Regions from separate parts of the Homo sapiens genome. Here region 1 is linked to region 2. Evidence: fine-mapped expression QTL. A gene starts in region 2. The other region holds a variant in brackets. All regions are shown on one strand. Distances are from middle to middle. Region 1 has its middle 340 kb from the start of KLF4. Region 2 holds the start of KLF4 (KLF transcription factor 4).

The links. PIP is the estimated chance that this variant, and not a neighbour inherited with it, causes the effect. A credible set is the group of variants that fine-mapping cannot tell apart.
Region 1: its variant is the best candidate, but not a certain one, in a credible set for the expression of KLF4 in whole blood (TOPMed, PIP 0.60).

What each region holds. Positions count from the first base shown.
Region 1 is chr9:107,831,361-107,835,747 of GRCh38, reverse strand. It overlaps the pseudogene RPL36AP6. Among named protein-coding and RNA genes, the nearest start is that of KLF4, 340 kb to the right of the region's middle. The variant G/A (reference allele first, on the strand shown) is at 2,391.
Region 2 is chr9:107,487,650-107,492,036 of GRCh38, reverse strand. It overlaps KLF4 (KLF transcription factor 4), which reads left to right and starts at 2,268. Exons shown (of 5, transcript NM_004235.6): 1 at 2,268-2,869; 2 at 2,987-3,107; 3 at 3,770-4,387. The coding sequence starts at 2,865. RefSeq lists silencers at 1,987-2,196, 2,556-2,755, 3,407-3,456.

The sequences.
Region 1 (4,387 bases), 340 kb before region 2:
CTTCTTCACTGGCCCCAAAGCAGCAGGCCTGGCAAAGCCAGCTAGAATGTTTTATTTGTTGGTTGGTTGGTTTTTGAGAAAGAGTCCCACTTTGTCACCCAGGCTGGAGTGTAGTGGCATGATCTTGGCTCACTACAGCCTTCGCCTCCTGGGTTCAAGCGATTCTCCTGCCTCAGCTTCCCAAGTAGCTGGGATTACAGGCACGGGCCACCACGCCCGGCTAATTTTTGTATTTTTAGTAGAGATGAGGTTTCGCCATGATGGCCAGGCTGGTCTCGAACTCCTGTCCTCAAGTGATCTGCCTGCCTCAGACTCCCAAAGCACTGGGATTATAGGCATGAGCCACCGTGCCCAGCCTCTGTTTTTATGTTTGTTTGGTTTTTAAGCCTGTTTTGGGCAAACAGTACCTCAGACTCCTGAGAGCCGAAATAAAGGGAGTCTCTCTTGAGGGTCAATCAACCACTGAAACAAAAAAATTGGGAGGAAATATTCTTCCCCTCCTCACCACCCCTCTTCTAGCAGAGAAGGTGACAGCTGGAGAGTAGGGAAACCCAAGTTCAAAAGTCACCATTTAACTATGAGATCTTGAAAAAGTCGCTTTCCACTTTCTCTATGATCCTCGGTTTCCTTATCTGTGTAATGCCTGCCTAAGTGTCCTCACAGGCTTATTAGGAGGATCAAGTGAAAATGCAGGTGAATGCAGTTTCAGAGTATAGAGTGCTACTCAAATATAACATACTCTCTTTCTCATTATTATACTGCTATTATTATATGCTGCCTGCCAGGAGGGGAGAGTTAATTACCTGACCATCTCTTTAACTACGCCAGCACCCAGAAAAGTTAAAACTACCTTTTTTTAATCCTGTTTTGCCCAAGAAAATTTAAATGCACTTCTGTGCCCACAGCACTCCCGCAAGTATGGTGAATGTTCCTAAAACCCACCGGACTTTCTGTAACAAGTGTGTCAAGCACCAGTCCCACAAAGTGACACAGAATGAGATGGGCAAAGATTCTCTGTATGCCCAGGGAAAGAAGTGCTATAATAGGAAGCCAAGTGGCTATTGCGGGCAGACTGAGCCCATTTTCAGGAAAAAGGCTAAAACTACAAAGAAGATTGTGCTGAGGCTTGAGTGCATTGAGCCCAACTGCAGATCTACAAAAGTGCTGGCCATTAAGAGATACAAGGATTTTGAACTGGGAGGAGGTACAAAGACAAAGGGCCAAGCGATCCGGTTCTAAGTGTCATCTTTTGTTTTATGATGAAGACAATAAAACTTTGAGTGTATGTTCACTTCAAAAAAACAATAACAGAAAATTTAAATGTCTAGTGTCTATTGACCGGAAAGAATGACATGTTTTATTGCATTTTTCTCAGTAGCACTTATCCATGAAAAAGAACCATGTCCCTTGGCTTGAGGGTTTTAAGCAAGACTTACTTTTTTTCCTCTTAAAGAACTTCTAAGGATTTCTGCAAACACCAAATCACCCTTGAATTCTTTTATTTCCTATTGATTATCCACACAAAAAAAAATAATTCTGGCTAGTATAATAATAGGCTATACCATTCTGGAGAACATGGAGGATTCATTCAGATGAACATTACTAGAGGATCCAGATAGAGCATGGAACATGAAGCCAAAGGAACCTCATAGGCTCCCCCATCTCATCCTTTGATAGGGGCTCATGCCTCAAGGGGCATTCTGATGGAAGAGGGCTTTTCGTATCAAGGGAGACCACTTCTCATGGAGAAGGAAAACCAGACTATGTGCTGGGGGTGGAAAGTTGTCGGCCGTGTCTGTAACATGGATCTGTGGAACACATACACCCTCCACCATTACCACTGCTAAAGAGACCGTATGGCCCATTCTCAGGGGAACTAAACAAGGTTCTCACATTCCACGAGTTTGTAGAGTCCCTCGGAGTTATTACAAGGCAAGCTGTTGACCATATATAGCACTGCTCAAAAGGGCCTTATTTGTGGGAATTTTCTGTTTAATTGTATTTTCGATCAACAAGAATGTGACTTCATTACTTCAGCATCAATTCAATAAGATTTTTCTGCCTCTTCGTGTCAGATACACTGCCATTAGCCCTGCCCTATACAGCCCTGCCTGCTGCACAGTGCTTACGGCCCAGTGTCTTAGAATGACTGAGTTGAAGAGCAAGATGTGACTATTGAGAGATTTCACAATTTGGAATGCTGTACCTCTAACATGTTTTTTTTTTTTCCACTTGTTTGTTTTTGTAACTCATGGTTACTCTTTTTCCAATCCAGAATGAAATAGAAATTGAGAAATAATCAGGTTAACTCAACCCATGCAGACAGAGAAGCTGGTCAATGAGAACTCCCAACTGCACATGGAGCTGAGACGTTCTGTCCTGCTGCCCAC[G/A]GTGGTTAGATTAACCTAAACCCATCAGAAAGCTAACCATCCTTAGCCAGCTCAACAAAGACTTCAGCTTGCAACATAGGAAAATGCAGAGCAAAAAATACTATGATAAAAAGAGTTTGGGAGAGATTCAAGGAAAAAAAATGTAAAGAGAGCATTGAGGAAACAGGCTTGAAATCCACATGAAGGACACACAAGGGAATCCTTTTCAAGGCTGAATTGGTGACTAGACCAATTTTACCCTCCCTTAGAAAAACTGGCATTGATTAGTGAGTGTGACTGTATGGGCTATTTGGAGCTTTAGTTTTCATTCCAAGAAACTGGCAGCGTCTCTCACCACGGATCTCCCCAAATTGATGGATGGTAGCAATTATGTAGAGCTATTTGTGTAATGTGTTGTAATAGCAGCACACGTTGGCTGTCACTTTGACCCAGACAGCCCCTTGCCCAACTATAAAGAAACCCCATCACAGAGCCGCCTTCAACAAGAAGCCAAGGAAAAAAAAAAAAATCTTCATCCCACCCCGCCTCTCAAGGAAATAGAAATTTTTAAAGCCTTCGAGAAAACAATGCCCCGTTGGTAGGAAGAGTTAAAATTGGACTTTGTGGTTTATCAGTCCATCTGAGCATGTATATTTCTGCTCATTCCTAGAGCAAACAAAGGTTATTAAAGACTAAAGAAACTTCTTCCACTCAATGGATGTTTAATGACTCTTCACATTAAGGCGACATCATTGGTCCACATCATTGGTCTTGTCTGCAGGGGCATGCAAAGGTGAAACAGAGCCTTGGTGCTCAGGAAGCAAAGTGCCTGGTGCCCTTAAGATGAGAACAGCAATAATAATCACACCTTTCATGTACCGTGTACCAGGCATTGTACCAAGTGCTCCAACACATGATCCCTTATAACACTCGGATAGGACCATCTCCCTTCCTGGGCCCTTGACTCTTCTCACTGATCTTTTTGTTTGTTTTTATTTTTGAGAGAGGGCCTCACTCTGTCTTCCAGGCTGGAGGGCAGTGGCACCATCTCTGCTTACTGCAAACTCACAGCCTCATGGGCTCAGGTGATTCTTCTACTTCAGCCTCTTGAGTAGGTGGGACCACAGGCAGGCACCATCATGCCTGGATAATTTTTCATGTTTTTGGTAGAGACAGGGTTTTGCCATGTTGCCCAGGCTGGTCTCGAACTCCTGGACTCAAGAGATCCACCCACCTCAACCTCCAAAAGTACTGGAATTACAGGCGTGAACCACACACCCAGCCTCTCACTGATCTCTTTACTCTTCCCTGAACACTGGATGTGCTCCTGCCTCGGGATCTGGCACTGTTTTCTCCAAGGACCATTCTTTCCCCAGATATCCAGGTCTCACTCCCTCACTGCATGCAGGTTTCTGCTCCAATATCACCGTATCTGGCAAGCCTTCTCTTGATCACTGCAGGTAAACTAGCAATGTTGTCACCTCACCCCACTTATTTGTCTTCGGTGACCTTGTCACTCCTAACAAATTAGATATCCATTTGAAATTGATCTGGAATCAGGTAGTGGTAATGGTTGCACAACTTTGTGATATACTAAAAACCTCTGAATTACACACTTTCAGAGGGTAGAATTTATAGTATGTGAAGTCTATCTCAACATAGCTGTTTAATAAAATAGAATAAAAGTTGCTGCCATCTTTCTCCCCTGCTGGGAGACAAATAAGAGTTGTTTTTGTTATGTTTTATTTATTTATTTTTTTAAACAAGTTCTCACCCTGTCATCCAGGCTGGAGTACAGTAGTGATATCTTAGCTCATTGCAACCTCCACCTCCCAGGCTCAAGCAATCCTTTCACTTCAGCCTCCCAAGTAACTGAAACTACAGGTGCATACTACCACTCCCAGCAATTTTTTGTAGAAATGGGTTTTGCCGTGTTGCCCAGGCTGGTCTCAAACTCCTGGACTCAAGTGTTACCTGCCCACCTTGGCCTCCAAATGTGCTGGAATTACAGGCGTGAG
Region 2 (4,387 bases):
GAGTTAAAGTAACTGGCCTGATCCTATATAGGGGGGTGGGGTTGAACTCCTCGAGGTCATAGGAAGGAGGACCTCGGTTTCCCTGCCAAAACACTCTCATCCCCCAGCTGCAACCCTGGCAGCCCTTGGCCAGAGCCAAGCTAGAGGATGGAAGTCACACTCAAGGGCGTCCGACTCTGGATCTTAGAGGGATTCCTGGCGTTGGCAGGGAGGGCCGAGTCAATTCATTCGGGGCGAGATGCATTCCAAGAATGCTTCTGTGGTCGGCGAGGAGTGGAAAAATCAGGTATCACAAATATTCTGAGGAAACCTAATAGGTACCAGAATCGCAGGGTTCAAACAGGTGACAACGACAAAGGACATTGGCAACTAGAACTCAAAAAGGGGTGAGCGCACTCTCTGCCCGGTGCCCGAGCTTCCACCACTTTCCCCAGTGTCCCCTCTCTTCTCTTTCCTAGGTTGACACCAGCCTAAGCGCCAGCGTTCGCCGGTGAGGGGGCTCCGTGGAGAGGGGGGCGGAGTCCCGCGCCGAACGCCGGAATCCAAAGTAAACACCTCGCCAAACCTACGTTTAGAAAGTGATACCGAACACCACATTCACGTTTTAAAAAAAAATACTGTTTGCTAAGAAGATGAGAGCAAAACATTTCCCAGCTGGAAAATTACTGATCACAAACCAAGGGGAGAGTGGGGGTGGGGGAGGCAGCGTTATAAGATTGAAGTAAAGATCGCCGTTTCCTATTCCCTTCCCGGTGGGCAAGGACGCCTGCGGCGGGCTCGGTGTGCACTTTTTGAGAGCTAGGATCCCACCGCATCGCTCCACTTCCTGGCACATGGTCACTTCCCAGGGAAGTCCCTTTAGGGGGGCCTGACCTACCCGGAGCCTGAGCCGAAGGAACGAGTTGTCCTTTGACCTTTACTGGCCATTTCACCTCTTTATGACTCAATTTCTCATCCATAAAGTGGAAAGGAGAGTGCGTGGCTTGAAAAGTCATCAGTGAGTGTTTAATTCTTCTTTAATGGGTGTCTTCTATTATTATTATTATTCTACAGTGCAATTTAGTCATCAAATATTACAGGCAGTGGCTCACGCCTGTAATCCCAGCACTTCGGGAGGCCGAGGCAGGCTGATCACTTGAGGTCAGGTGTTCGAGACCTGCCTGGCCAACATGGTGAAACCCCGTCTCCACGAAAAATACAAAAATTAGCCGGCGTCGTGGCGCACGCCTGTAATCCCCGCTACTCGGGAGGCTGACGCAGGAGAATCGCTTGGACGCAGGAGGCGGAGGTTGCACTGAGCTGAGATCGTGCCACTGCATTCCAGCTTGGGCGACACAGCGAGACTCTGTCTCACAAAAAAAAAAAAAAGAAAGAAAAAAAAAGGAAAGGGCTTCGAGATGGCTGGTTGAAAACTGTCTCCGCGCCTCACAGTCCCTCTTCTCTCCCTTATGCCTCTGAGTAAATCTTGAGCCCTTTCACTCCCTTTCTCGCTATTTAAAGTATCAAAACCATAACTCCCCATTCGTGCCTCTTTCCGCCTGTTCCCGGCGGAACACTCCTCTGGCCTTCTCTTGAGGCTCCCAGTTCACGCTGCACAGTGCTGGGCACTGCCTCCTCTCCACACCCCTAGCGCCCCCCACCCCTCAGCAGAAGGGCCCGCGAGGAACCGTGCGAGGTCAGGCCGAGCGCCGGCACCGCCACCGGCACTGGCGCTGAGCGACGAGAGCGGACTCCTGCGAGCGCAGAGAGGGAGGGGGAGATGGAGGGCTGGATGAGTCACGCGGATAATCGCGCTCTTCTCCAGCGCGCAGACAGCGCGGCAAGCGCGTATGCTAGCAGGGGTGCGGACGCGTGACCGTGCCGCCCGCTGACCCCACCAGTCTTCGCGGGCTTCGAACCCAGGGAGCCGACAATGGCGGTGAGTACGGCCCTGGTCGCGCAGCGACCGAACCTGCGCCCGGTTCCTCGCGCCCCGCGCTGGGGCGGACGCCGCCGCCGCCGCCGACACCACTGCCGCCGGCGTCAGCTCGGCTCCAGCCCGCCAGCTGCCTGGCTGGCGTCACGGCCCGGCCCAGCCCCGCCCGCGCCCCTCCTTCCCCTCCCCCGCCCCCACGTGCGCCGAGTTTGTTGATTTAGCTGCCATAGCAACGATGGAAGGGAGCCTCGGGGGGGGCGGAGAGAAGAAAGGGAGGGGCGGGGCATGGGAGAAGGCGGAGGAAAAGGCTGTAGCGAAGGAAGTTATAAGTAAGGAACGCGCGCCGGCGGCCGGCAGTTTCCCGACCAGAGAGAACGAACGTGTCTGCGGGCGCGCGGGGAGCAGAGGCGGTGGCGGGCGGCGGCGGCACCGGGAGCCGCCGAGTGACCCTCCCCCGCCCCTCTGGCCCCCCACCCTCCCACCCGCCCGTGGCCCGCGCCCATGGCCGCGCGCGCTCCACACAACTCACCGGAGTCCGCGCCTTGCGCCGCCGACCAGTTCGCAGCTCCGCGCCACGGCAGCCAGTCTCACCTGGCGGCACCGCCCGCCCACCGCCCCGGCCACAGCCCCTGCGCCCACGGCAGCACTCGAGGCGACCGCGACAGTGGTGGGGGACGCTGCTGAGTGGAAGAGAGCGCAGCCCGGCCACCGGACCTACTTACTCGCCTTGCTGATTGTCTATTTTTGCGTTTACAACTTTTCTAAGAACTTTTGTATACAAAGGAACTTTTTAAAAAAGACGCTTCCAAGTTATATTTAATCCAAAGAAGAAGGATCTCGGCCAATTTGGGGTTTTGGGTTTTGGCTTCGTTTCTTCTCTTCGTTGACTTTGGGGTTCAGGTGCCCCAGCTGCTTCGGGCTGCCGAGGACCTTCTGGGCCCCCACATTAATGAGGTAGGTGAGGCGCGCGGCGCTGGGAGCAGGGAGGGGTGAGGACCGGTGGGACGCGCCGGAACGACGGCCGAAAGCCGCCCCTGACTCTCCTGTCTCCGCTCCCTGCCTTGCTCGCAGGCAGCCACCTGGCGAGTCTGACATGGCTGTCAGCGACGCGCTGCTCCCATCTTTCTCCACGTTCGCGTCTGGCCCGGCGGGAAGGGAGAAGACACTGCGTCAAGCAGGTGCCCCGAATAACGTGAGTATCGCTCCGGGCCGCCGGGAACGCCCGGTGGGTTTTCGTGGGTGTGGTGGGGGCGGGCGGAGCCTTGGGGTCACCAAGAGCCACTGAACGAGGGTAAGGAGCGGCCACCGCGCGGACTCCGCAACCTTCCCGGGATAGCTTCCGTGTCCTTGGCTCAGCTGTGTATGCCCGTGGTGCGAGCACTGCGGAGCCGCCTGGGGCGCAAGCCGGGTCTTCACCAGTCCCCGGGCGCGCTGTCGGTAGGGCGGGCGCTCTCGGGCCACCGGGCGGGAGGTGGCCGCGTCCCCAGACACTGGCTGGGCCAGAGTGAGTTTAGCGCGTAGGCGGCCCCGTGGCGAGAGCGCACCGAGAGAGCCTCGGTGTGCCAATTCCGGGGACGTCCACGGGACCTGGAGGGGGAGGGACCAGCCGCGGCGCTCGCTCACACGCAATTGGGCAGACAGGACATAACACCCGCAATACAGACGCATCACCTCTTCTTCGACCCGGGAGTGGGCCGAGATTGCAGCGCTGGCGCCCTGGGTTCCCGGGTGCTTCCTGCCTGACCAGTCCCCATGTCTGGGCGGTGCAGTCGCGCGTGGCCCGCCAGCACGTCAGTATGTCGGGTGGCAACAGGGGACCACCACTGACAGGTCTCTCCCGCCCTGTCCCCGCAGCGCTGGCGGGAGGAGCTCTCCCACATGAAGCGACTTCCCCCAGTGCTTCCCGGCCGCCCCTATGACCTGGCGGCGGCGACCGTGGCCACAGACCTGGAGAGCGGCGGAGCCGGTGCGGCTTGCGGCGGTAGCAACCTGGCGCCCCTACCTCGGAGAGAGACCGAGGAGTTCAACGATCTCCTGGACCTGGACTTTATTCTCTCCAATTCGCTGACCCATCCTCCGGAGTCAGTGGCCGCCACCGTGTCCTCGTCAGCGTCAGCCTCCTCTTCGTCGTCGCCGTCGAGCAGCGGCCCTGCCAGCGCGCCCTCCACCTGCAGCTTCACCTATCCGATCCGGGCCGGGAACGACCCGGGCGTGGCGCCGGGCGGCACGGGCGGAGGCCTCCTCTATGGCAGGGAGTCCGCTCCCCCTCCGACGGCTCCCTTCAACCTGGCGGACATCAACGACGTGAGCCCCTCGGGCGGCTTCGTGGCCGAGCTCCTGCGGCCAGAATTGGACCCGGTGTACATTCCGCCGCAGCAGCCGCAGCCGCCAGGTGGCGGGCTGATGGGCAAGTTCGTGCTGAAGGCGTCGCTGAGCGCCCCTGGCAGCGAGTACGGCAGCCCGTCGGTCATC